4 linked regions of the Homo sapiens genome follow. The protein of the gene in region 2 interacts with the protein of the main gene of each other region in a pairwise test. Each region holds a gene or a part of one and is shown on either strand. Other genes may lie near its edges.

What was found.
Region 1: the proteins of ASGR2 (region 2) and SLC35B2 interact in binary tests that used the Homo sapiens proteins (3 or more experiments, as listed by UniProt).
Region 3: the proteins of ASGR2 (region 2) and TFRC interact in binary tests that used the Homo sapiens proteins (3 or more experiments, as listed by UniProt).
Region 4: the proteins of ASGR2 (region 2) and EMP1 interact in binary tests that used the Homo sapiens proteins (3 or more experiments, as listed by UniProt).

What each region holds. Positions count from the first base shown.
Region 1 is NC_000006.12:44,254,529-44,262,083, forward strand, and holds the start of SLC35B2 (adenosine 3'-phospho 5'-phosphosulfate transporter 1), read right to left. Parts: upstream 3,001-7,555; 5' UTR 2,883-3,000; coding exon 2,872-2,882; intron 2,761-2,871; exon of another isoform or gene 2,654-2,760; intron 2,351-2,653; coding exon 2,157-2,350; intron 1,969-2,156; coding exon 1,814-1,968; exon of another isoform or gene 1,810-1,813; intron 1,117-1,809; coding exon 178-1,116; 3' UTR 1-177. Other genes in the region: NFKBIE (NF-kappa-B inhibitor epsilon), read right to left, coding at 4,691-4,756, 5,515-5,754, 5,923-6,011, 7,098-7,320. UniProt on the Homo sapiens protein: Probably functions as a 3'-phosphoadenylyl sulfate:adenosine 3',5'-bisphosphate antiporter at the Golgi membranes.
Region 2 is NC_000017.11:7,100,822-7,104,850, reverse strand, and holds the end of ASGR2 (asialoglycoprotein receptor 2), read left to right. Parts: intron 1-2,654; coding exon 2,655-2,761; intron 2,762-3,110; coding exon 3,111-3,276; 3' UTR 3,277-3,525; downstream 3,526-4,029. UniProt on the Homo sapiens protein: Mediates the endocytosis of plasma glycoproteins to which the terminal sialic acid residue on their complex carbohydrate moieties has been removed. The receptor recognizes terminal galactose and N-acetylgalactosamine units.
Region 3 is NC_000003.12:196,051,072-196,058,103, reverse strand, and holds part of TFRC (transferrin receptor protein 1), read left to right. Parts: intron 1-2,802; coding exon 2,803-3,024; intron 3,025-4,545; coding exon 4,546-4,686; intron 4,687-5,919; coding exon 5,920-6,162; 3' UTR 6,163-7,032. UniProt on the Homo sapiens protein: Cellular uptake of iron occurs via receptor-mediated endocytosis of ligand-occupied transferrin receptor into specialized endosomes. Endosomal acidification leads to iron release.
Region 4 is NC_000012.12:13,199,713-13,206,744, reverse strand, and holds part of EMP1 (epithelial membrane protein 1), read right to left. Parts: intron 1-7,032.

The sequences.
Region 1 (7,555 bases), on a different chromosome or scaffold from region 2:
CTTAAGGCAAAAGGGAAGGCTGCCTCCTGGGCTCCCCAATCCCCTGCTGCAGAGCTGGTCTGTGATACTGAGAAAACACCTGCATTTTGCCCTTTCAGCCAGCTCCCTCAGAGGTTACAGCAGAAGGGGATGGTGGGAGGGTCCTATTTCACTTCACCCCTCAGGCCCTTTCCACCCTCAAACCTTCTGCACAGGAGACTCAACAGGCACAGCCTTCTTTCCCCGTTGCTTTAGACGGCCCCGCGCGTAGACTCTGAGCAGGAGGGCAGCAAAGACCACAGCCACCCCCAGCCCTCCCACCACAGTGACAGTGTGGCCATAGAGAAGGCAGGAAAGAAGGATGGCAAAGGCCTGGCGGAGGGTCATGATGATGGTGAAGACGGCAGCCCCAAACTGCCCAATGGTGTAAAAGATGAAGAGCTGGCCACATGCGGAGCAGATGGAGAGTAGCAGGGCATGGGCAGCAAACTCACTGTGTCGCCCCATGAAGCGGGTTCCCTCCAGTAGGGCCCCCTGTTCTAGCAGTGAGCCCACTGTGAAGAGGCAGGAGAAGAAATTGACCCCAAACATCATCTGCACCGATGACATCTTATAGGCAAACAGGGCATCCTGCCAGTTTGAGGTGAAGCTGTCAAAAGCAATATAACCTGCCAGTAAGATGAGGCCTGAGAGTGTGGTGGCTGGGGAGCTGCGGGGCTCTGGTCCGCTGGATAGCAGAAACATGCTGACCCCAATGGAGATGAGGGTGGCTGTCAGGTACTCCCAGTGTTCGTAGCTGCGCCGAGACACAAGCTTTCCCATCAGCATGACAGGGATCACCTTAGAGGCCTTGGCCAGCACCTGGGTGGGGAAGCTGACGAACTTAAGAGCTTCGTATTGGCACCAGCTGCTAAGCACATTGGACAGGCTGGCAAAGGAGTACCGGTACATGGGTGCCCCATGCCGGGGCTGCTTGCAGAGAACACAGGAGAGGCCAGCCACAATCAGTGCCAGCACTCGGTTCATTAGCACCAGGAACTGCGAGTCCGTAAAGCGCTCACCCGGTGATGTGGCTGTGGCCCCATAGCTGCGGGTCATCACTCTTTCCTGCAGCACACCCCAAGTCAGATAAGACACCTGTTGGGGAAGGTAGAGACAAAGGAGACAATAAGCAAGATAATGAAAAGGTAGACAAAAATTGACCTCTCTCTCTTCAGGATTATGCCTAAGTGATTCAAAGGAAAATATACACTTTTTGGTTCCTCTGTAGAAGTTTCTTCTCCCCTCCTAAGTCTGGATTCACCTTGTAGGGAATCAACTGTGTGTGAAAAACCTATTCAGGGAGGCAAGAACTCTCAGAATTGGGTATCTGTAGTTCAACATGATATTCAAGGTGGAACTAGTACCCACTGCAAAATGCCATGGGGTCAGCATGTTAGCACTCTCTCACATGCAGTACTGGGGGAAGGCTGAATGGCTCCCCCACAATTTTATCAGTGGGTTTACAGTATGTGAGACACCAGTGCAGGAAGGAAGTATAATAACGGCACAGTAGAAATCACAGAGAATAGGGCAAGAGGAGTCCTCTCTTCTGCACTAGACATCTTGAAATAACAGCATGAACTTTCAGTACCAGTGCTGGAGAGGAGAAAAGGAAGAAACAAAAGGGCATTTCCCCCAAACACCTCAAAGATGGAGGTGCAGTGTGCCCCTGGGAGGAGGACACGAAACACACCAGCCAGCAAAGCTCTGGGACTGGTAAAATGGAAACCTTCACAGAATCCCTGCCCACCGGCATCCAACCCAGGAAGAGAGGCTGAGCCCACCTACCCACCTGGAGCCCTGTGGCACAGAAGAGCAGCTTCAGGGCCTGCCACATCGGGGTGGTCTCTGCCGCCTCTGTTCGGGGCGCCAGGGGAACCTCATCAGAGGCCTTGGGCTCATTGCCAAACACACAAGCTTTCACCAGGGGAAAGCAGAGGCCCCTACCTGAAGAAAGCACACAAAGTCAAGCCCCAAATCTTCTCCATAGCACTTCATCTTCCCCAGAGCAGCCAGCCTGCCCTGCTGTCCGGCCTACCGACCTCCCGCCCTCTCCAAGTCATATCCCGTTTGGACTGCTGGCCAAATACCCTCTTTCCCGACCTAGCTCACTTCCCCGCCCTTTCTTCACACACCGGTCTCCAGGTAGTTCTTCCGCCTGAAGTACTGCACCAGGAGGTAGCCAGGTACCATAAAGCTGGCATAGCCAGCAGCATTCACCACAAATCGGAAGAACCATAGCTGGGTCCATGACTCCGGAGGGGCTTCGGGAGTCTCCCCACCTGCCCCTAGGGAGGGGAACGCAGCCAGCACCACCACTGCCCACCATCTGTAAGGAAAGCGGACATAAGGATTAGGGCGCAGCTCCTCATCCCCTCCGCCCTCCAGAGGGGACCACACTGGAGTAGTGCCCGGAGTCTCCTCCCCGCCCCCTCCGCTGCAGCTCCGGCCCGGACAAAGAGCCTCTCTCTCTCTCTCTCTCTCGGGGAGGGGGTGCGCCGGCGCTGGCCAGGCAGAGCTTCCTCCCTCCCCGGGGGCGGATCCGCCCCTCTGGCCACACAGGTCTCCTCTGTTCCCTCCAACGCTAGCCGGCTGCTCAGGTCAGAGGAAGCGCCCCTTCCCCCACACTCCCCTCCACGATCCGGGACGTCAGGGTCCCCAGCCCCTCCGCCCGAAGCTCCCCAAGGAGCACAAAACCAAGCCGCAGCTCCCATCCCCGCTGGCTCCGGGCAGCGATATGCTGGCCGACGGCCGAGCAGCCGGGACCCCACCCGGCCCCCGTGCTGAGGCGCGGCAGTCACGTGGCCCGGGGGCTCGGTCACGTGAGCTCGCTGCTGCCCTAGCCCCCACCTGGCGTCCATGGTCCAGGCCGCGTGGGGTGGAGGGGGAACCGGGGAATGCGAGTCCCCGGGCCGCGCGCCCCCTGCGCTCCCGCCGCCGCCTCCAGGAGCGGCCAGCGAGCCAGCGGCCAGCGGAAGTGCCGCGCTCTTCCCGCCTCCCTCCCCGCGGCCCCCTCCGCCCCTGCCGCGACCACGCAGCGCCCCGGGCCGCCGCCGGACCACAGCGCCCCCGCGCGGCCCGGAGGCAGACGCGGCTTGGGTTCCGGGGACCTGGGCTGCCCCTGGGCGCGGGGAGCCCCAGCCCTGAAGAGGCGCCCGCCCGGCGTGTCCCCTGTGCTTCGTCATCGCCCTTCATAAGCGTCCCAGAGGTCATGGTGACCATTGCCATCTTGTGGACAGGACATTGAGGCTCTGCATCCCAAGCCGCTCCTCTGTGTTAGTTTCCCCGTTTTCTGACAGGATGAAGGTGTCTCCTTGCTTTGTTGGCTGGGTAGTAATTCTGTCCCACTTCCCATGATCTTCGAGGCTCTACATGGCCTCGCCCGCGTTCCTCGCCCACTCACTCGCCCGCTGTGAAGCCCCACTGGCTTGCTCTCAGTTCCTCTAATTCACAGGCTTTCCCCCTAATGCTCTGCCCCCATCCCTTTACTCATCCTTACATCCCAGTTGAGATGATACTCCTCAGGCGAGGGTTCCCGGACCACCCAAAGTATGACCCTCTACCGACTCCATCCTTTTCCTTCCCACTATTCTTTTCCCTTCATAGCACCCACTGCAACTTGGAAAGGCATCTTTATTTGGATGTTTATGCTTTTAACGGCTGTCTCTCTCACTGGATGAGACGCTCCAAGTGGTCAGAGACTGTGCTGGTTTATTGCCCCATGCTCTTCATGCCAGCATAGGGGTGACCTAGCAGGGCCCTCGAAGGTGAGGAACGGGGGGAAAAACGTGGAGTCAGCTCCCTCGTGCCCAGCCTCCCTGGGTTACCCTTATCCCCAGGCTCCTCCAGATGGCAACCCCCAGGGCAGTGGTGAGGGCTCCAGGGCGTGTGTCCTCTCATTCTTCCTCTTGTCCCTCCATCCCTCATCATTTCCACAGCAAGGACAAGGGTCTGTGCTGGACACAGAGAAAGGCCTGGAACTACTGGCCTCTGACCCCACCCAGCAAGGCCCTACCGTGCTCAGGGGACAATTTCCTTCTCTCTGCCTCTACCACAAAGTCACAGGGCAGGCCTGTCTAAAAAGCCCCAATGCACACAGACATGCATGCGCGCAAAACAGCTCTAGAAGGGAAAAACTTTTTTTAACGTCTCTGCCATTTTAGTGTCATGTTACTGAAACTTCCCTTCCCCAGTGGCTCAGTTCAGAGCCTTCTGTGTGAAGTCTTTAAACAACGGTGTTTCAGGGTCCTCAACAGCAATAAGATGGGACACCTCTCAGGGTTCTGCTTGCTCCTATTTCAGTCTCTTCTCACTCAGGAGAGTCCATGCTTCCTACTGGTTGGCAGTTTCAGGCTGACCCAACATGGGTAAAACAAGAGCACCTGCCATTTTCAAGAGAGGCAAACAGGCTTCACCCAGGATACCTGGGGCTTTGGGGGTCTTCCAAGAAGCCCTGTCCACCTGGAAAGCTCTTCCTTCCAGACTGGCTCTCTTCCACTTGCAGTCCCTCCTCCTCGGCTCAGGACTGTACTGGCTGGCCCCAGGCTCTGGCCACAGCAGTCCCTAGGGCACCAGAAGAGCACATAGCCTGGGCCCAAACTGCAGCAGTTATGGCTCCGGCTTCCAGATGGAGAGGTGGAGCCCTGAGGATCCCAGACCCTGCCTGGCTTCAGTCGGTACACAGCAGCAGTTTCCCTGAGATCTTCAGGTCATCAAAGGGCAAAAGGACAAGGGACTGAGAAGGAGAATGGAGAGAAGCAAGATCAGAGGACATGGGAAAAGGTGACTTGGGAAAGGGGACCCAGGGAAACCTGTTGGGCCACTCCCTCCCCACCAAATGACAGTTGAAGACCATCAGGGAACAAATCTTCACACGAATCCTCAAAATAGTGGCCCCTCTGGGCTTGGCAGAGCCCTGAGGACTTAGACAAGCCTTCCTTTTCTAAGATAATGCCAGAATATCCGAGTTAGGAGGGACCCTTAGAGGTGATCCAGCCCATGGACCTGGAGTTGTTTGTTGTTGTTGGGGGATGGGGTGGGGGGGCTGCTGGGTACTCGCAGAACATTTAGGTTTCTTTTTTACACTGAACATTTAAAAATAGGAAAGACTGTACAGAAAATCTGAGTTTCACCTCTCAAGAAAGTCCAAGACCAGGAAAAACTGGGCCTACACTCCTGCTTTGTAAGCCTTTGCTGAAGCTGAGTACAGAGACCCTCAGGGATGGCTCTCTGGGTTCTTATAGGCCTCACCACACCATGGTCTCATATCTGGCCAACTTCACTGATTCACTTTAACTGCAGGGTCCCTGTAAGAGTCCAAATTTGGCTCCTTGGACCAACTAAGGAAACAGGCTCAAGTTCCCACAGTTGGTCAGTGGCAGAGTCCTGGTTATACCCCAGGACTCCTGGCTCCCTGGCCCTTTCAGCTAATGACAGAACCTCTCTCTGCTATGGGTGTGCAAGGCCCTGGAGAGCAAAGCATATGCCACTTACTTCCTCAGTCAGGTCCTGGGGCGTCTCATCCTCCACATTCCGCAGCAGGGAGTCAGCACCCGCCTTGCACAGAGTGGATGAGATGCCCATGAGACCCCGGCCAGCTGCCAGGTGCAGGGGTGTGCACCCGTTCAGCATGCGGGCATCTACCTGGGCACCAGCCTGGAGCAGGAACTGTACCAGGCCCCGCTCTTGGGTTTCCACAGCCAGGTGCAGCGCTGTCTTACCACTGGTGCCCTCCTGGGGAGGAATAAGGATGTCAGCCAAGGCCCTCAGAGGCAGTGTGCTGGGCCTGGGCTCTGGATAAGGAAGTGAATGCCACCACTTCTGACTGCTGGGCAGGGGACTTGGGGATGTGTCAGGTGGGGGCAGGCCCTGGGCCGGGCAGTGCTTTGCTGGCTGTCTCACCTGCACATCAATGTCAGCTCCATTCCGAAGCAGCAATTCCATGAGTGGTTGGTTCTTCTGAAGGGTGGCAATGTGGAGACAAGCCAGACCTGGGATGGGGTGAGAGTGAGGGTGAGGGCTGCTGATCTGCATCCACCAACTCCCTCTCTTCTGGGACCTCCCTACCACTCAGCCCCAAGGGACTCACAGCCCACTCAATGTCTCTAATCACAAGACTGTTAAAATGCAAACCCCAAAACCCCCTCAAAAGTCTAAGGGGAAAGGAACTCAAAGTTTCCACCTTTTCAGAGTCATGTTATTGAAACTTTCATGCTTCAGGGGTCAGGCTGCTGAGTGACACCCCCAAAGAACACCCTCCTCCTATACACAAACTACAACACACACACACACACACACACACACACATACAGACACACACACACACACACACACACACACACAACCTGCCTTCAAGCCCAGTCTGAAAGCCACCTTTTCTGAAAAGCCACCTAAGATCCTCATGCCCCCAGCCCTTTCTCAGGGGCCGCTTCCTTCTGTGCTCCCCTGGCCTTTTTGCTCTCCTTTCTAGTCTGGACACTCCCGACCCTTGCTTAGTAATAGAGATTTCGATTCAAATTTACATTCTTCACCTTCCTCAGGGCGCTATTCAGATGTCACTGGCTCCATGAGGCCTTCCCGGACCACCCTATTTAACAATCATATCAACTCTCCTACTCCCCACATTCCTTCCTCTCACTCTGCTCTGCTTTTTACTACAGCACTTACTTCCTTTTAACATATTACATAGTTCACTTCTTACATTTATTGCTCATCTCAATCTTTCTCTATTTTGCACACAGATGCAAGTGTAGCTCCTAGGATAACGTCTGGCACATAGAAAACCCTCAGTACATTTCTGTTGAATGAATGAATCAGGTCATCTAATCTCTATTAAACTAAGTATCTTAAGGGCAAGATTTAGTTTTCTTCTCAGCAGGCAGTAGGTACTGGTTAAATTCGAAATCAAATCATCCATTCATTCATTTGGCAAAGATGTACTGAATATCTATGTGCTTACAGTGGGAGGGGCACCAATGGACAAGCTGGGACCCTCCCTTCCCCAAGAGTGAGGTCCCTATCTCCTATGCCCTCCTCATCCCACAGGCCCTAAGGGCAGTCTTAAAGACTGTCCACACCTTGCCAGTTTTGCAGCTGGAGGTCCAGAGAGTGAGATGTTCCTCTGCCTGGCTCTGGCCGCCCTTCCAGCAGGCAGCGGGCACAGGCCAAGTGCTGGCGCTGGCAGGCCACATGAAGGGCTGTGTCACCATGCCGGTCCTGTAGTGCCCGGCTGGCCCCCTTCAGCACCAGTGCCCGAACTGCGCCCGGTTGGTCCAGATGTACAGCCAGATGGAGTGCTGTCTGGAGGCACAAATAGAGGGTCATGGGGCCACTGCAGCATGCTCCCACCTCTGGGAACATGCTTGGGCTCAAGAATCACCAGCTGCCAGCATCTTCTTTGAAAGCAGCTTATAAAGGCCATAACCTGTTCTTCCAAGGAAATACTACCGAGCCCTTCCCCTGTCACACCCCTCCCCCACCAAGCTCTTGGGATCCCAATTCTGGAAGCAAGGTGAAGAAAGTAGCTCTCTGCTTT
Region 2 (4,029 bases):
GCACCCGCCATCGTGCCTGGCTAACTTTTATATTTTTTAGTAGAGACAGGGTTTCACCATGTTGGTCAGGCTGGTCTTGAACTCCTGACCTCGTGATCCGCCCGCCTTGGCCTCCTGAAGTGCTGGGATTACAGGTGTGAGCCACCACGCCCGGCCCCTCAAGTGTTTTATCTGAAATTTTTTGTTTATTTTTATTTTTTGAAATGGAGACTTGCTCTTTCGCCCAGGCTGGAGTGCAGTGACACGATCTCGACTCATTGCAAGCTCTGCCTCCCGGTTCAAGCAATTCTCCTGCCTCAGTCTCCCGAGTAGCTAGGATTACAGGTGCCTGCCACCATGCCTGGCTAATATTTATATTTTTAGTAGAGACAAGGTTTCACCATGTTGGCCAGGCTGGTCTTGAACTCCTGACCTCAGGTGATCCTCCCGCCTGGCCTTCCCAAAGTGCTAGGATTACAGGCATGAGCCACTACGCCTGGCTTTTTTTTTTTTTTTTTTTTTTAAGACAGAGTTTTGCTCTTTTTGACCAGGCTGGAGTGCAATGGCACGATCTTGGCTCACTACAACCTCCGCCTCCCAGGTTCAAGCGATTCTCCTGCCTCAGCCTCCCAAGTAGCTGGGATTACAGGCATGCGCCAACACGCCTGGCTAATTTTGTATTTTTAGTGGAGATGAGGTTTCTCCGTGTTGGTCAGGCTGGTCTCCAATTCCCGATCTCAGGTGATTCACCTGCCTTGGCCTCCCATAGTGCTGGGATTACAGGCGTGAGCCACCACACCTGGGCTTTTTTTTTTAGTATGTAGCTCAAACTTTTCATTTCCTTTCCTTATCATGTTCTCTTTTTTTTTTATATCTTCTTTCATGTTTTATGTCATTCTTTTTAAAATTTTTGAAGCATGTAAAGAAACTGTTCTTGGGAGCGGGGAGGGAGAGCATTAGGAGATATACCTAATGTTAAATGACGAGTTAATGGGTGCAGCACACCAACATGGCACATGTATACATATGTAACAAACCTGCACGTTGTGCACATGTACCCTAAAACTTAAAGTATAATAATAATAAAAAAGAAACTGTTCTCCAACATCCCCTCATATTCCGAAACAAGGCTTCTTTTCAAAGTCTATTTTTCACCTCTCTTTTTGATATCACAGTTCATTTTTCATCTGCCTCATCTTCCTCTTTCTTTTTGGGGGCATAAGTTCCATGATGATTTTCTCCATTACTTTTGTGAATGGGCACAGTGCTTTCTTTCCTATGGTTCACCCAGGAAAGGGGGAATGAATTCTCCCGGACTGTCTTCTCTGATCATCTGGCATGATTTGATTCCTCCTCTCAGTCTTTAACACGGCGGGCTGGATACTGCTAATTTGTAGTCTGCTCAGTTGTTCTGTTTCTCGTGGTGATGGGAGGGAGGGCTGGCAGCAGGTAGCAGCACATAGTGTGTGTTGTCTCCAGGCACTTTCTCTCCAACTCCGTTGACTCCTCTGAATTTGGGGAGCAGCCTCACCTGCCTCTGAGGGCTGCCCCTTCATGCATGGGACTTTGTCCTATTTGTGGGATTCCAGAATTTAGGGATGCCCCAGTTTCTGATGCTCAATCGGAAGAGGTGAATAACTGCAACCTTAGTTGTTTTTCTAGAGAGTGAGAGTAGAATTAGGCAATTGTCCTTCAAATACTGTTGGAAGGAAAATTCCAGGCTGTCAAAGGGAATTGTTAAGTGTGCACGTTGCTCAACGGATCCATCCCTCTCCACTTTCTCCACAAAACCAGGTGACCACACCTTCCCCTCCTACCCTACCGAACCACGGGACCTAGGTCCCCAGGAACAGCTGTATGTGTAAGAGAAAGCCACTTGGAGGGGCTACCGTGCTGGGAGTGTGGGTGCGCGTGGGTCCCGGGGAGCTATCTGCAGGCTCGAAGTCCACTTTCACCCAAGCCCCTGGCAACTGGCTGTCCGGGCTGCTTCCTCACACCCCGGTGTCTTCCTATTTTGCCCCGATTGTCAGACTCCACGTAGCTAGATCATAATGGGGCCCTGGGCAGTGGGTCCAAGCTTAGAAGCTCCCGGGCCTGACAGATCTCAGGAAATGACAGCTACACATAGAAGCGAGAGCTACCAGGGGCCAATGTACTTGAGAGGCCAGTGAAACTGAGATCTTCAGTGGGTCTGGGGTCTGGGGGGCAGTAAGAGCAGGGACCAGGGTCGGGATCCCAGGAGTTCGAGGCTGTGGGCAGAAGACAGGGAGAGAACCGGAACTTGGGTAGAGCCATAAGCTGGGAATGAAGGGGGACACCGGCCCAGGGCTGTGAACAGGGGACAGTGGCCACTAACTCAGGTACAGGATTGGCTCTCTGGCTCTGCAACTCCCTGCAAAATGTGGTCACTGCAGTGCCCATCTTAGAGAGCTTCTGAGGATTAAATGAGATCATCTTTGCACAGACAGCACGAAGTCTAGCCTAGCAAATGTGCACTGAACAGTAGCTAGAGTGACGGAAGAAAAAGCTAGGAAGCAGTCTTGTCGGGAGCTGGTGCTTCAGCCTGAGGGCAGATCAGGCTGGGGAAGGCTGAGAGGGGCCACAGTTCCATGCCTGCATGGAGGGAGGAGAAAGGCACAAGAGACTAGAAATTTCCTGTTTGCCTGTGTTTCCAGAAATTCATTGTACAACACACGAACCCCTTCAATACCTGGATAGGTCTCACGGACAGTGATGGCTCTTGGAAATGGGTGGATGGCACAGACTATAGGCACAACTACAAGTAAGTGGCCTCTTCCCTCATCTCCTTGTTAGATTTCTCTGGGGACAGCCCCCTGGCCTTTCACTCCAAGCTACCCTGACTCGTCCCTCAGGGACCAAATTCCCCAATCCTCTCCTCCCCAGACTCCAACCCCTCCAAAGCTGTGCTCTTCTGGGCTGGGGGTGAGGGTTGCTGGGACTGGGCATAGGAAACATCTTTCTCTGCGGTTGGGTTCTCCCCAGACTGGGTAGCAGGGCACACCCCAGCTCCACTCTCGGCCTTCAAGGAAAATGGTCATGAAGAGGAGGAGGATGGGTAAGTCGCTTTCTCACCACCGTGGCAGAGTCCGAGTTTTCTCTTGCCTCCTTAGGAACTGGGCTGTCACTCAGCCAGATAATTGGCACGGGCACGAGCTGGGTGGAAGTGAAGACTGTGTTGAAGTCCAGCCGGATGGCCGCTGGAACGATGACTTCTGCCTGCAGGTGTACCGCTGGGTGTGTGAGAAAAGGCGGAATGCCACCGGCGAGGTGGCCTGACCCCAGCACACCTCTGGCTAACCCATACCCCACACCTGCCCAGCTCTGGCTTCTCTGTTGAGGATTTTGAGGAAAGGAAGAAACACTGAGACAGGGGTATGGGGAAGAGCTGAGCAAAGAGAGAAAGGAGGTAGTTTAAGAGTCCCTGACCCTGGAGGACTGAGATCCCACCTCCTTCTGTAATTCATTGTAATTATTATAATCGTCAGCCTCTTCAATGGCGTAGGAAAGAAGAAACAAATGCTTGAATCTCTGTGTGGCCTGGTTATTGGGAACTGAGAAACAGCATGCAAAGAGGAGGGAGAGGGGAGGGCATGGAAGACGCAAGGCGCGCATCCTAGACAGCTGCTCCTTGGTCCCTAATCCCGAGGGACATTGGTCAGGGAAACGGGAAAGGGGCTTGGAGCAGACAGGCTTAGTGGCTGGCACTGGTGGGAAAGGGGTCGGCCGGGCTGTGGCTGGAGGGTCCGCCTGGCTCCCAGTGAGAGGTGACAGCGTGCTGGCAGTCCTCACAGCCCTCGCTCGCTCTCGGCGCCTCCTCTGCCTGGGCTCCCACTTTGGCGGCACTTGAGGAGCCCTTCATCCCGCCGCTGCACTGTGGGAGCCCCTTTCCGGGCTGGCCAAGGCCGGAGCCGGCTCCCTCAGCTTGCAGGGAGGTGTGGAGGGAGCGGCGCTTGCGGGCCAGCGCGATTTCCGGGTGGGCGTGGACTCGGCGGACCCCGCACTCGGAGTGGCCGGCCTGCCCCACCGGCC
Region 3 (7,032 bases), on a different chromosome or scaffold from region 2:
GGTAATTATTCTTGGCTACCAAGATCAATAACAAGGATGACACCAGTCCAAGGTTGACAGGCAGTTGCTAGGCAGATTTTCTCACGAGAGAAGTTTTTTGGTGCAAGGTTGCAGTGGCCTTTGTGTAAGGTTGTAGTTTTTGTAAAAAGGAAAAAAAAAAACCCTTAATCCTTGTTATCAGACATACAAGGGTGAGACCCTTCTCTTCAGGGTTGCATTTTTGTTAACACTAGTGACTCCATTTTGATTTTGACAACTTGCACATATCTTAGTTGTTGGGTTTTTTTTGTTTGTTTTTTGTTTTGTTTTTTTTTTTTTTTTTGACAATGGTGACTTGCTCTGTCACCCAGGCTGGGGTGCAGTGGCCCGATCATGGCTCACTGCAGCCTCAAGCAGTCCTCCCCCTTCAGCCTCCAAACTGTTTGGATTATAGGCAAGAGCTACTTACTACACCTGGCCATGGATCTTCTTGTGTCAACTTTGAGACCAAATTTACTGCAGTGCTTAAAATGTTTTAAGAAGTTATACACATGTGCTGGATGTGGTAGCTCACGCCTGTAATCCTGTAGCAGGACAAGCCGCAGACAAATCCCCTCAGACACCGAGTTAAAGAAGGAAGGGCTTTATTTGGCTGGGAGCTTTGGCAAGACTCACGTCTCCAAAAACTGAGCTCCCCGAGTGAGCAATTCCTGACCTTTTTAAGGGCTTACAACTAAGGGAGTCTGCGTGAGAGGGTCGTGATCAATTGGGCAAGCAGGGGGTACGTGACTGGGGGTTGCATGCACCGGTAATTAGAACAGAACAGAACAGGACGGGATTTTCACAGTGCTTTTCTATACAATGTCTGGAATCTATAGATAACATAACTGGTTAGGTCAGGGCTCGATCTTTAACCAGGACCAGGGTGCGGCAGCGCTGGGCTGTCCACCTCTGCCTTTTAGTTTTTACTTCTTCTTTCTTTGGAGGCAGAAATTGGGCATAAGACAATATGAGGGGTGGTCTCCTCCCTTAATCCCAGCACTTTGGGAGGCCAAGGAAGGCGGATTACGAAGTCAGGAGTTTGAGACTAGCCTGACCAAAATGGTGAAACCCCGTCTCTGCTAAAAATACAAAAATTAGTCGGACATAGTGGCGTGTGCCTGTAACCCCAGCTACTCAGGAGGCTGAGGCAGGAGAATCGCTTGAACCTGGGAGGCAGAGGTTGCAGTGAGCTGAGATGGAGCCACTGCACTGCAGCTTGGGTGACAGAGCAAGACCCTGTCTCAAAAAAAAAAGTTATACACATGTAATTATTGCATGTTCCTTCATTATTAGTTTTAACATAGACTTGTTAATCTCAATTAGCTTAATTAGCATTTGAGTTTATTGCTAAAACTTCTTTATGAGTTTTAATAATGAGGCTTGGCCGAGTGTGGTGGGTCATACCTGTAATCCCAGCATTTGGGAGGCCAAGGCGGGTAGATCACTTGAGGTCAGGAGTTCAAGACCAGCCTGGCCAACATGGTTAAACCCCATCTCTACTAAAAATACAAAAAAATTAGCTGGGCATGGTGGCACATGCCTATAATCCCAGCTGCTCAGGAGGCTGAGGTGGAAGAATCGCTTGAACCCAGGGGGCAGAGGTTGCAGTGAGCCGAGATCGTGCCATTGCACTCTAGCCTGGGCAACAGAGCAAGATCGTCTAACAACAACAAAAAAAAAACCAAGGCTGAATTTCTTGAGTGATTGAGCAGTGGCTATCTATTGGACAGTCCAGCTGAACAGTATTTTCCTCAGGCTGGGTGCAGTAACTCACACCTATAATTCCGGCACATTGGGTGGCTGAGGTGGGCAGATCACTTGAGGCCAGGAGTGAGACCAGCCTGGGTAACGTGCCTAGACTATATCTCTACAAAAAATTTTTTAAATTAAGTGGCCCAGTGGCCAGCTGTAGTCCCAACTCCTTGGGAGGCTGAGGCAGGGGGGTCACTTGAGCTAGGAGCTTAAGGCTGTGGGGAGCCATGATTGCATCACCACGCTCCAGCCTGGGTGACAGAGTGACCTCGTCTCAAGGCTGCAGGGAGCCATGATTGCATCACTGCACTCCAGCCTGGGTGACAGAGAGAGGCCTCGTCTCAAGGCTGCGGGGAGCTGTGATTGCATCACTGCACTCTAGCCTGGGTGACAGAGTGACCTCGTCTCAAGGCTAGAGGGAGCCATGATTGCATCACTGCACTCCAGCCTGGGTGACAGAGAGAGACCTCGTCTCAAGGCTGCAGGGAGTCATGATTGCATCGCTGCACTCTAGCCTGGGTGACAGAGACCTTGTCTCAAGGCTGCGGGGAGTCATGATTGCATTGCTGCACTCTAGCCTGGGTGACAGAGAGACCTTGTCTCAAGGCTGTGGGGAGTCGTGATTGCATCACTGCACTCTAGCCTGGGTGACAGAGAGACCTCGTCTCAAGGTATGTTTCATGTATCTTCTCTTTTTTCATTGATAAAGGCCCAAACTTCCCAGAGAGAAAAACATACAGCCTTAAGGAATTTGGCTAGAAGTCTATTCAGGGCATATGATACGATAGAACAGGGATTCTGTAGAACCTGGAAGAAAGTAGTCACTCTAGGAGTAGGTTAGCTTGAGAGAAGTAGCAAGAATGTACTTAAAGCAGCAGATAATGAGATAGAATTGGGGTAAATTGCGGTAGGAATATGTTAGAAGCAAGGGTGGAACTGTCGTCACTGTTACCTCGATGGCGAAGCCAGAATGTGAGGCTCTTGCTCTTAGAACTCACGTGAGTACCATAGCCTCGCGTTGTCTTGCAGGACACAGATTATCCTTATTTGGGTACCACCATGGACACCTATAAGGAACTGATTGAGAGGATTCCTGAGTTGAACAAAGTGGCACGAGCAGCTGCAGAGGTCGCTGGTCAGTTCGTGATTAAACTAACCCATGATGTTGAATTGAACCTGGACTATGAGAGGTACAACAGCCAACTGCTTTCATTTGTGAGGGATCTGAACCAATACAGAGCAGACATAAAGGTGAGCACTGATTCCAATTACGTTTTTATTTTGCTGAATGTCAAGTATTTTGAAATGTGATGTGTTCCTGTGTGTTCCTGTTGGAAGGGTGATTGTAGCCATAGTACATTTTAAAGTGAACTGAGGTATAATTGTATGTAGAATTGGTAACTTGTTTGAGAGAAGTCGGGAGGCTGTGGATTAGAGACCTAGGACAGAGCTCAGCAGGTGTTTCAGAATCCAGAGCAGTGTCAGGTTTTCTGTCACTCATGTCTCCCAGGCAGCCCGTCAGTAGGACACGGAATATGAAGATCTCAGCAAGGAGTTGGGCTGTGTGCCTCTCGGGCGTGACCCGGATGGAAAGACAGCACAGCTAGCAGGATTCCATCTCGTAGTGATCTGCGCATCTAAAAGTCAAATATTCTATTAAACGAAACTGATAAGCAGGGTGAGGTGGTGCATACCCGTAGCCCCAGCTACTTCTGCTGAGGCAGGAGGATTGCTGGAGTCCAGCCCAGGCAACATAGCAAAATCCCATCTCTAAATAAATTAATAAAACTAATATTAAAGTAGCTTCCAGATTGTTTTATGGTACTAGGAGTTGATTTTTAACAGATCTCTTAATTGAAGTAAATCACTGACAACCGAATCTTTTTATATCTTTTTTATTTTTATTTTTATTTTATTTTTTTTGAGAGATGAAGTCTCGCTCTTGTCCCCCAGGCTGGAATGCAATGACATGATCTCGGCTCACTGCAACCTCCACCTCCCGGCTTTAAGCGATTCTCCTGCCTCGGCTCCCCAGGTAGCTGGGATTACAGGCGTGTGCCACCATGCCCAGATAGTTTTTGTGTTTTTAGTAGAAGCCGGGGTTTTACCATGTTGGCCAGGCTGAAGTGCAGTGGCGAGATCTCGGCTCACTGTAAGATGCGCCTCCCGGGTTCACGCCATTCTCCTGCCTAAGCCTCCCGAGTAGCTGGGACTACAGGTGCCGGCCACCACGCCCGGCTAATTTTTTGTATTTTTAGTAGAGCCGGGGTTTTACCATGTTGGCCAGGCTGGTCTTGAACTCCTGACCTCAGGTGATCCACCCACCTCGGCCTCCCAAAGTGCTGGGATCACAGGCATGAGCCACCACGCCCGGCATCTTATGTCTTTCTTGAAACTAATTGTAACTGTTGAAAATGGAACTTACCAGGTGGAAATAACTAAATCCTGAAGTACCTTGAACCAAAATGTTTTCCCCTATAGGGACATTTTCCCCCAAAAGGAGAATTGAACTGGAAACAATATAGTACATAGGATTATATAATTATGTTCAATTTCTTAATGAGAATGGTTTTCTTACATGCTGGGCTCAAATATGAGTGTATATCACAGTCCATAGAGCTTGGAACCCCTGTGCAAGGTGCTTTCGGAGTCTTGAGCTTATCTGCGAGTTCCTTTTATCAGAATCTTACTTAACGCACGTTAAATTAGAAAGGCATACAAAAGAATGTCCTTAGAAATAAAACTTCTCATAGCGAATAATGTCTGTTTCAGGAAATGGGCCTGAGTTTACAGTGGCTGTATTCTGCTCGTGGAGACTTCTTCCGTGCTACTTCCAGACTAACAACAGATTTCGGGAATGCTGAGAAAACAGACAGATTTGTCATGAAGAAACTCAATGATCGTGTCATGAGAGTAAGTGAACTTTTGGGAAAGGAGGAACTAAAGTATGTGTAAAATAACCGATAAATCTTACACTTCTGCAAAGTGGACAAACTCTAGGAGTCTAGAATTCCTTTAAGAAGGGAGCATTAATGGTTTAGCTGTCATTTTCTGTTTCTGCTGTCTAATTCAGAACTTAGTCAAACCTAGTCTTTTTGGAAGAGACTTGCTGTAAAACTTCCATGTATGCTCCAATGGGGAAAAGAATCTGAACACATTTAAAGTTTTCCTTTGTAAAATGAATCAGTTTCCTTTAAAAAAATTTTTTTTTTTTTTGAGACAGAGTTTCACTGTTGTTGCCCAAGCTGGAGTGCAATGGCACGGTCTCGGCTCACTGCACCCTCCACCTCCCAGGTTCAAGTGATTCTCCTGCCTTAGCCTCCCGAGTTGCTGTGATTACAGGTGCCCAACACCACGCCCGGCTCATTTTTTGTATTTTTAGTAGAAACGGAGTTTCACCATGTTAGCCAGGCCGGTCTCGAACTCCCAACCTCAAGTGATCCACCTGCCTTGGCCTCCCAAAGTGCTGGTATTACAAGCGTGAGCCGCTGTGCCTAGCCTCCTTTAGAATTTTAACCTTAGAAGATTAGCATTAGCCTGGTTCTCAGCATTCTTTTTTCCTTACTCTGCTATAGAAAGTCTGATCAGCTGGCTGGGTACAGTGGCTCATGCCTGTAATTCCAGTACTTTGGGAGGCCGAGGCAAGCGGATCACCTGAGGTCAGGAGTTCAAGACCAGCCTGACCAACATGGAGAAACCCCATCTCTACTAAAAATACAAAAATTAGCTGGGCGTGGTGGTGCATGCCTGTAATTCCAGCTGCTCAGGAGGCTGAGGCAGGAGAATTACTTGAACCCGGGAGGTGGAGGTTGCAGTGAGCTGAGATCGCGCCATTGTACTCCAGCCTGGGCAACAAGAGCGAAACTCTGTCTCAACAACAACAAAAAGCCGGGCACGGTGGCTCACACCTGTAATCCCAGCATGAATTGCTTGAACTCGGGAGGTGGAGGGTACCAGTGAGCCGAGATAGCGCTGTTGCACTCCAGTCTGGGCAACAAGAGCGAAACTCTGTGTCAAAAAAAAAAAAAAAAAAAAAAAGTCTGATCGGCATTCTTAAATTTGGGACATTTTACATTTGAAGTGAACTGTTGTTTTACTACAAAAGTCACAGGGCTGTGTAAATTGCCTTGTGTGTTGTTTTCGTAGGTGGAGTATCACTTCCTCTCTCCCTACGTATCTCCAAAAGAGTCTCCTTTCCGACATGTCTTCTGGGGCTCCGGCTCTCACACGCTGCCAGCTTTACTGGAGAACTTGAAACTGCGTAAACAAAATAACGGTGCTTTTAATGAAACGCTGTTCAGAAACCAGTTGGCTCTAGCTACTTGGACTATTCAGGGAGCTGCAAATGCCCTCTCTGGTGACGTTTGGGACATTGACAATGAGTTTTAAATGTGATACCCATAGCTTCCATGAGAACAGCAGGGTAGTCTGGTTTCTAGACTTGTGCTGATCGTGCTAAATTTTCAGTAGGGCTACAAAACCTGATGTTAAAATTCCATCCCATCATCTTGGTACTACTAGATGTCTTTAGGCAGCAGCTTTTAATACAGGGTAGATAACCTGTACTTCAAGTTAAAGTGAATAACCACTTAAAAAATGTCCATGATGGAATATTCCCCTATCTCTAGAATTTTAAGTGCTTTGTAATGGGAACTGCCTCTTTCCTGTTGTTGTTAATGAAAATGTCAGAAACCAGTTATGTGAATGATCTCTCTGAATCCTAAGGGCTGGTCTCTGCTGAAGGTTGTAAGTGGTCGCTTACTTTGAGTGATCCTCCAACTTCATTTGATGCTAAATAGGAGATACCAGGTTGAAAGACCTTCTCCAAATGAGATCTAAGCCTTTCCATAAGGAATGTAGCTGGTTTCCTCATTCCTGAAAGAAACAGTTAACTTTCAGAAGAGATGGGCTTGTTTTCTTGCCAATGAGGTCTGAAATGGAGGTCCTTCTGCTGGATAAAATGAGGTTCAACTGTTGATTGCAGGAATAAGGCCTTAATATGTTAACCTCAGTGTCATTTATGAAAAGAGGGGACCAGAAGCCAAAGACTTAGTATATTTTCTTTTCCTCTGTCCCTTCCCCCATAAGCCTCCATTTAGTTCTTTGTTATTTTTGTTTCTTCCAAAGCACATTGAAAGAGAACCAGTTTCAGGTGTTTAGTTGCAGACTCAGTTTGTCAGACTTTAAAGAATAATATGCTGCCAAATTTTGGCCAAAGTGTTAATCTTAGGGGAGAGCTTTCTGTCCTTTTGGCACTGA
Region 4 (7,032 bases), on a different chromosome or scaffold from region 2:
AGGACCAGAAGGGAAGTTTAGAGGTGCATAATTTGGTTCCCTGATTGCTAACCTAGGAGTCAGATAACTTCTTCCTGTCCAGAAGTCTGTGTGTTCACTGAACTGCCATGGGGCCTGGCGGCAGCAGCAATTCTTTAAGAGTGACCTAAAACACAATAACTGGGAGCAACACAATAGAATAGAGCAACCAAAAACCCACTTCCCCAGTGAAGGAAGTGGTCAAAATCCTGGGGCTTGAGTCACTGAAGAATTAGCCCTAGCTGAGGGGTGGGAGGGGAGCATGCTCAGAAATCAGGAGCTGAAGACGATGCAAACACTGGGGGAGGCCCTCAGGGCTCAAATTTCCATGATTCATTTGAGAGTGGGTGAGATTCTCCCAGAATGAAAGGCATCATGGAGACCTTCTCTACAAAAGGGCACGAGAGAGCTTTCTGAGAAGCAGGGTATGGATCTGGCTGGCATTTCCCTGGCAGCTTAAGAAAGGCCAGGATTTTTCTGGGGAGAAAAGAGCAGTAATGACCACTGCCAAATGTCCTATCTTCCCTTCCCCTCATTCCACTTTTGTTGCCCAAAACATCACAGTCCTACCCTGAGTTTCTACCTCCATTACTTATCTCACATCCTTCCTTATGTTCTATTCCCATTGCTACTGTCCAGTTCAGGTCCTAGCCTGACCATGGCATCAGCCTCACCCATGACCCTGTCTCTGAACAACTCCCCTCTAACATATCTTCTACCCTGCTACTGGGTTATCTGACCATGGCACTCCCCTGCTCAAGAACCTCCAAACCCCCACCTCTAACCACCACCAATCAGCAGGAAAGAGGCTCCACGCACCTCAAGCCAGCCCTTGCAATCCCAGGACTTGGATTTCCAAAAATAAAAGCTCTGCTTTTGTATTCTTCTTTCAGTGACAGTCTATCAAATTCTTTTCAACCAAGCTAAAATCCTACCTCTTCTAAAAAGCCTTCCCAGATCCATAGGTTAGGAGCAGTTTTCTTTTCTCTCTTCTTCTATTGCCCTCACATAGCTTTTTATTAAAACCACTGATGACAGCCCTAAGATTTTAAGTCCCTGAAGGGAGAGTCTTGCCTGTGACAGGTACCAAATAAATATCTGTTCAATGAACAAATAAATGAATTAAGGATGGCCATATTTTCTTCCCCATGGAAAAATAATCAATGTCAAAATGACTGAAGACTTCATAATAAACACAGAATTATAGAGGGAAAATATTTCCTTTTTTTTTTAACATACATAGACTTTAGTCCTTTATTATTTTTCAGAAATTGCTTAATACTTTACTACAACTATGTATTGAGCATCTTATTGTATGCAAACTTTGTTATATATTTCTATATAAATACCTATGTAAATATGTGACTGTTTCCTGAGTGCATTTGAATATACAAGGGTATATATGTGTGTGTTGCCTTTTGTTCAAGAGGAAATAAGTGAATGCAAAGAAAATGTCTTAAATTTCTAAACACTAGTTTGTCTGCAGATTTAATCTTTCTCTCTACTTCTTTGAATTATAGAATCTCAGGACTGAAGAGGGAGGTCTTTAAAATTCCTTTTCAATTCAAGAAAGTCATCTACAAATCTGACCAAAGAACTATCTGAATCATGCTTAACCTCCTCCAGTCATGGAGAGCTCACTACCTACCAGGATCCCTTCCCCGATTAGAAAGATTTTTCTGACAATACGTCCGAGTGTGCTCTTTGCAACGACCACCATGACTTTTAATTCTGCCGGTGAGATTACCTGACTAGACTAATTCTTCCTCTTTCTAGCATGGTTGTCTTCACAGCAGAACTACCAGGTTATCAGAAGATTCACCAGAGGCCTTCACCTTAGATCTCAAAATCTCAGTCAAGTCATAACACAGTCCTGAGATTACTGCTAGACACTCCCTGTCTTTTTGCTGGCCAGTGTTTTTCTGACAGTGAGATTCTGATCTCTTTCTGGATAACTGTAAACTTTGGAGAAAGCTTTCTCACAGCATCTGACCAAAGACGTGGTGCTTCCTCCAAAGCACGAGGAGAGAGAGAGGCGTAGCCGCTTCTGGTCAACTGACCCCCATGAGTCAGACGACCCCACACCACCTTCCTCAGCGTGACACCTGAAACTCCGCAGCTGCCTCTCCTTCCTAAGACACCACGCAGGGTGGCACGAAAGCCTTTCTGTCCTCTGCGCAAGTCGGGAGCATTTTGCTTTTGTTGGTTTGGTTTTGATGTGTTTGTTTCCCATGAAGGATCATTTGGTTGGCAAAATGGATGCGCATGTAACACAAAAGCAGAAAAGGAAGCACTCCCTTCTGGGGGCAGCCGGAGAGGATGTGTCTGGAGGAGGAAAAGACTGGGATTAAAGGCAGGCTGAGTGGATGAGACCTTGGATGAGCCTCTCTGGCCACTGTTATTGTTGTTTTATATCAAGTGTACTTTTCCATTCTCAATATTGTGTTTATGCAGGGGTGGGAAAGCAGGGGATTAATTTCTCCGTGGGAAACATGGGGAGAAAAAGGATTCTCAGGGGCCATTTCCTCCGGCCTCTGCATAGCTCATGTTTGGTGTGGAAGGAAGGAACCTCAGGTAGGACTTGATGTTGGAAAATACAGGGCAGTTTTTACAACCAGGAGAAACATCGTCAATCAAGCAGCAAAAGTAACAGGGACCTACATGCTGCAGGGAAAACAATTATTTTTTTCATCTTCCAAATGCAGGCTATTATAAATGGGGGTTATTATACAGCAAGTCGTGTTGGTCTGGTGCTGTGTAGACTAGCACAGAGTCTCACATAGTCAGGGGTGAGGAGCCAAGGTGTGGGTTGGGAGTGGGGCAAGCACACTGTATGAGAGAGAGAGAACCTATTGGAGAACCAGATTCTTATAATAAATCTGCCCCTGACCAACTTCTGACTTTAGAAAAATCACATAACCTCTCTGGTCAGTGGCTCCTACAGGCACAGAGTTCAAAGTAGCACAGAGCAGGGATTCTCAGCTCCAATCCTGGCTCCACCATGTCTGAACTGTGACCTGTAGACCTCACAGGATTAGCATGAGGGCTGAAGGCCTGTGCCAGGCACAGAGTGGGGGCCACACAGTTCCTGGTTGGTTGGTCTCTTCCTCTGTGTAAAATGAGAGGCTCGGGCCGGGGAAATGGGCTTTATGCTTCTCTGGCAGAGCCTGAGGGCCAACAATTATGCTAAAGGCAAACAAGTGGCATGAATATTGTTTTTGCAAATGCTCCCAAGAAGAATAACCTCTCTCTCTTATTTCCGCTTGTCCTCCTTCGTGTCCAGGGGAGGGGTGGATCTGGGCAACATCTGCAAAGACTGAGGCCAGACCTGGGCTGTGAAGTTGGGGCCCAGCCTACTCCCCCAGACTGCAGCTGGTCAAGGGATCAGGCGATGTTCCCTGGGCGAGGACGGAAGCGTGAGTTGCCTTCTGCTTTTGACAAACGAGTGTTCTGGCAGCCAGAATGTCTTCAAGGGAGAGGTTGCCAAGATAATAACTAGGGGTTTGGGAAGAAAACCTAGGTGTGGCCCGGCCCCAGCGGCGCTTGGGTGGGACCAACAGTAGATGGCGGCAACATGCTTCAACCAGCAAAGCTGCAGCCTCCTGGAAGGCGGCAAGCTGGGAGGGGAGGCCCCTCGCCTAGAGACACCCCAGACCCATCAGGTGGGCTCAGGGCTTCATTTCAATTCGTTCTTTAGAGGTTGAGAGGCATTGAGGTCATTCAGTCCAACCCCTTGATAAGAAGGAAATGCACGTCCCCAAAGGAGAAATGGAATTGAATCAGAACTGAAGCCATTTCGCACCTTCCAGGCAGGGCTCTTCCACCTGGCATGATTTTTTCTCTCCTGTCTCTTGGCTTAGGGTTTGGTGGAAGTTCTAGAACTTCTACCAGATCTACTGTTCTCTCTTTTCCTCCTACCCTCTCTGAGTTAATCAGAGAGTCAGCATATACCCCTTAAAACTGTGCCAATTATAAAAACACAGGGTCTTCCGAGGCCACTGCTTCTCCCTGTCGTTTTGCTGAGAAGTCCCACCCAGCAGAGCCAGCCTGCCTGGCCAAAACAGACCCGAACAATATCCCCCTGCAAACTCCGAGCAACCTTCTAACCCTCAGCACAGGAGTCCCCACCCCACCCAGACATGGAGACTATCTTTCAATAAAGGGAAGCTCCAGGTCTCAGCTTCAGAGCTTTCTCTGAGATCAATGTGAACACACTGCCTTGCCCCAAACTAGTTGTTTCAGGGTTGCAAACCTCTGTCCAACTCCCCTTCTCCAGCGTCCTGGGGAAGGGTCTTTGATTCTTTGAAATGAGAAGTCTAAGGATCAAGAACCCCGTTTTGCTCTCAGCTCTGATCTGACCTGGAAGAGGAGAAACATTGAAGAGGTTCCAGCCTGGTGGGCACATGTAGTGGAAACTAAAATGATACCAAAGAGGTGTCAACCATCCTGAAAAAACAAGAAGTAGCCAATGCGACAAAAGATTCTTCACAGGGGACAAAGAATCGAATTTTGACCGAAGGACTGCCTTGAAACATTGAGGGTGGGTGGTCCCCAAACAAGAGTGGAAGGATGGAAGGGGAAACATCCTCATCACTTCTCCCTTGCTCTTTTGCCCCCTTTCTGTCTTTCTCTATCCACTTAGCTTTTTCTCCTGCTTCTAGGTCTTTCTGCCTGCCTCCTCCCTCAACACACAGGCCTGGGAAACAGCATCCCACTTGCCCTCCCTCCCTCCCTCCTGTCCTAGTTGCACCTTCCTCTTCCTCCTCTCAAACTGTTCCTCATTTGCTCCTGTCCACACCTGTACACCACACCTTCATGCTGCAGGGTCTCCCTCCTCAAGAAGAGGGTGGAGTTTCTTTCCCAGAGCCAGCTCAGTTTCTCCCTGAGCCTGATTCTGTTCCTGGTGAATGCTTTGCTGTTGTCAATGTCTTCACAGACTCAGCCTGCCCTCCTCATCTGAGCTGGCACCCTTTACGTTTAATTACTCAAACCTCTTTCTTTTATTCCTAGTGCCGAGTGAATGCTCATGGCTGAGGGTAAGTCCGGGGAACACCATACCTAAAGAATCTGTGAGTGGATGGGGCAGAGGAGGCTCCGTGGGTCCTCAAGGCACCCAGGAGACGAGAATCCTCTGCAAAATGCCCTTTTCAATGCCACACGTTGCCCTATTTCACTTTTCTATCAATTTTTACAGATTAAGCCAGCTGCTAGCATCAGCGCAAGGGATATCTCAAAATAGAAATGGTAGGATCTTAATTTTTTTGTTTTTCGTTTTTTTGGTGTTTTTGTTTGTTGGTTTGTTTTGTTTTTGTTTTTTTTGAGACAGGGTGTTGTTTCATTGCTCAGGCTGGAGTGCAATGGTACAATCATAGCTGACTACAGCCTCAAAGCCCTGGGGCTCAATCAATCCTCCTGCCTCAGCTTCCCAAGTAGCTGGGACTACAGGCATGCACTACCACACCCTGCTTTTTAAAATTCTTCTTTTAGAGACAGGGTCTCACTATGTTGCCCAGACTGGTCTCAAACTCCTAGGTTCAAGTGATCCTCCCACCTCAGTCTCCCAAGTAGCTGGGATTACCACGCCTGGGTGAATCTTAGAATCTCAGAGCCATAAGGGGTCTGAAAGAACCACCAAGTTCAACTTCCGAAAGCAAGAAGACAAGTGTCTCGCCTGTGGTTACATGGCAGCGTCAAGATAACACCACTGCCCCTCTGTCTTCCTAGTCAGCTGTCTTACATCTGCTCCAGGATTCTTGCCACGCTTTCAACCTGTGCTGAAAGGGCTCTCTAGTTTAACTACCCGGTTTGAAGAAACAATTCATGAAACAGGCTCAGCAAATAGAAAAACTGTCACAGCCACGTAAGTCCAAGCGCACCAACAGCAGAGGATTCCATTGCAGTTCCAGGGAAATGCCATCTCCACAACACAAAAGAAAACCTTGACCCAAACATTTTGTTAAAAAGGAAGAGAGAAGCAGCAATCACCACAGGTGTTTGTGCTTTCATCTTTCTGCTTTAGTATCAGTGAATCTCCCAGGTAAATTGAAGGAAATGGTTTTACCCAGGCAGGACACCAGGGACTGAATTGTTGCAAAGAGCAGTCTCAGGACGTGTGTATGTCGGGGCTGGGTGCTGAAGATTCAAGTAAACCCCTAACTGGAACCATATTTGGGCTTCCTTGATTACTGAATAGCAAGTGCAGTCCAGAAATTCAAGATCACCTGGGCGGATCTGGGAAGAGTATTAGAAAAGGGAAGCTTATGGTGAGAAAATTCCCGTTCTACGCTGGTTAAGGGTTAGGAGCTCTTCTCAAGGGGCTGATACCCAGATTGCTGGCCAGCAATTACAAGGAGGCTACATTTGATGGGCAGCCTGTTCCCGTAATTACTATGATGGGTGGTGACAATGTATAGGTGTGGGCTACATGAACTATGGACCAAATTATGGGACAATCCCCAAAAGGCCTAGCTAGAAGCCTGTGTCCTGGTATTGGATTGATCTAACCATGACCTAGTAGGTAGCAACACTGGGTGTGTCCCTCCGAGTATGTACATCTGAGAGTCCCAAATAGGCCTGAGCTTTTGTGTTAGGCAGCTATGTACATACATGTGGGAGGTTAAAGAAGGAACCATATTCATGCATTTAGAAAATTAAATACCTCCAAATCAAAAACCCCGTGAGTATGATTGACTATGTACATAATTCCAAACTTCAAAAATGCTCCCTGCCCTTCTGAGCCTTAGGCAAAAAAAAAAAAAAAAAGAAGAAGAAGAAGAAGAAGAAAAGATAATGCAATGTAGATCCATCAAGTTGTATTCATTAAATATTAAATAGGCGTTAAGTGTTTAGAGGATGAGAATCATTGGGTGGAGCAACAACAAAACCAGAATAGATATTTTCTGAGTTGTTTCAGGCCAGCAGAATCAGGAAGTTATAAGGAAGTTGATTTTGCTTGATTTAAGGAACTTTAATAAAATTAGAGTTGGCCTGCTAAGGGGAATGAGTGTGGAGGTA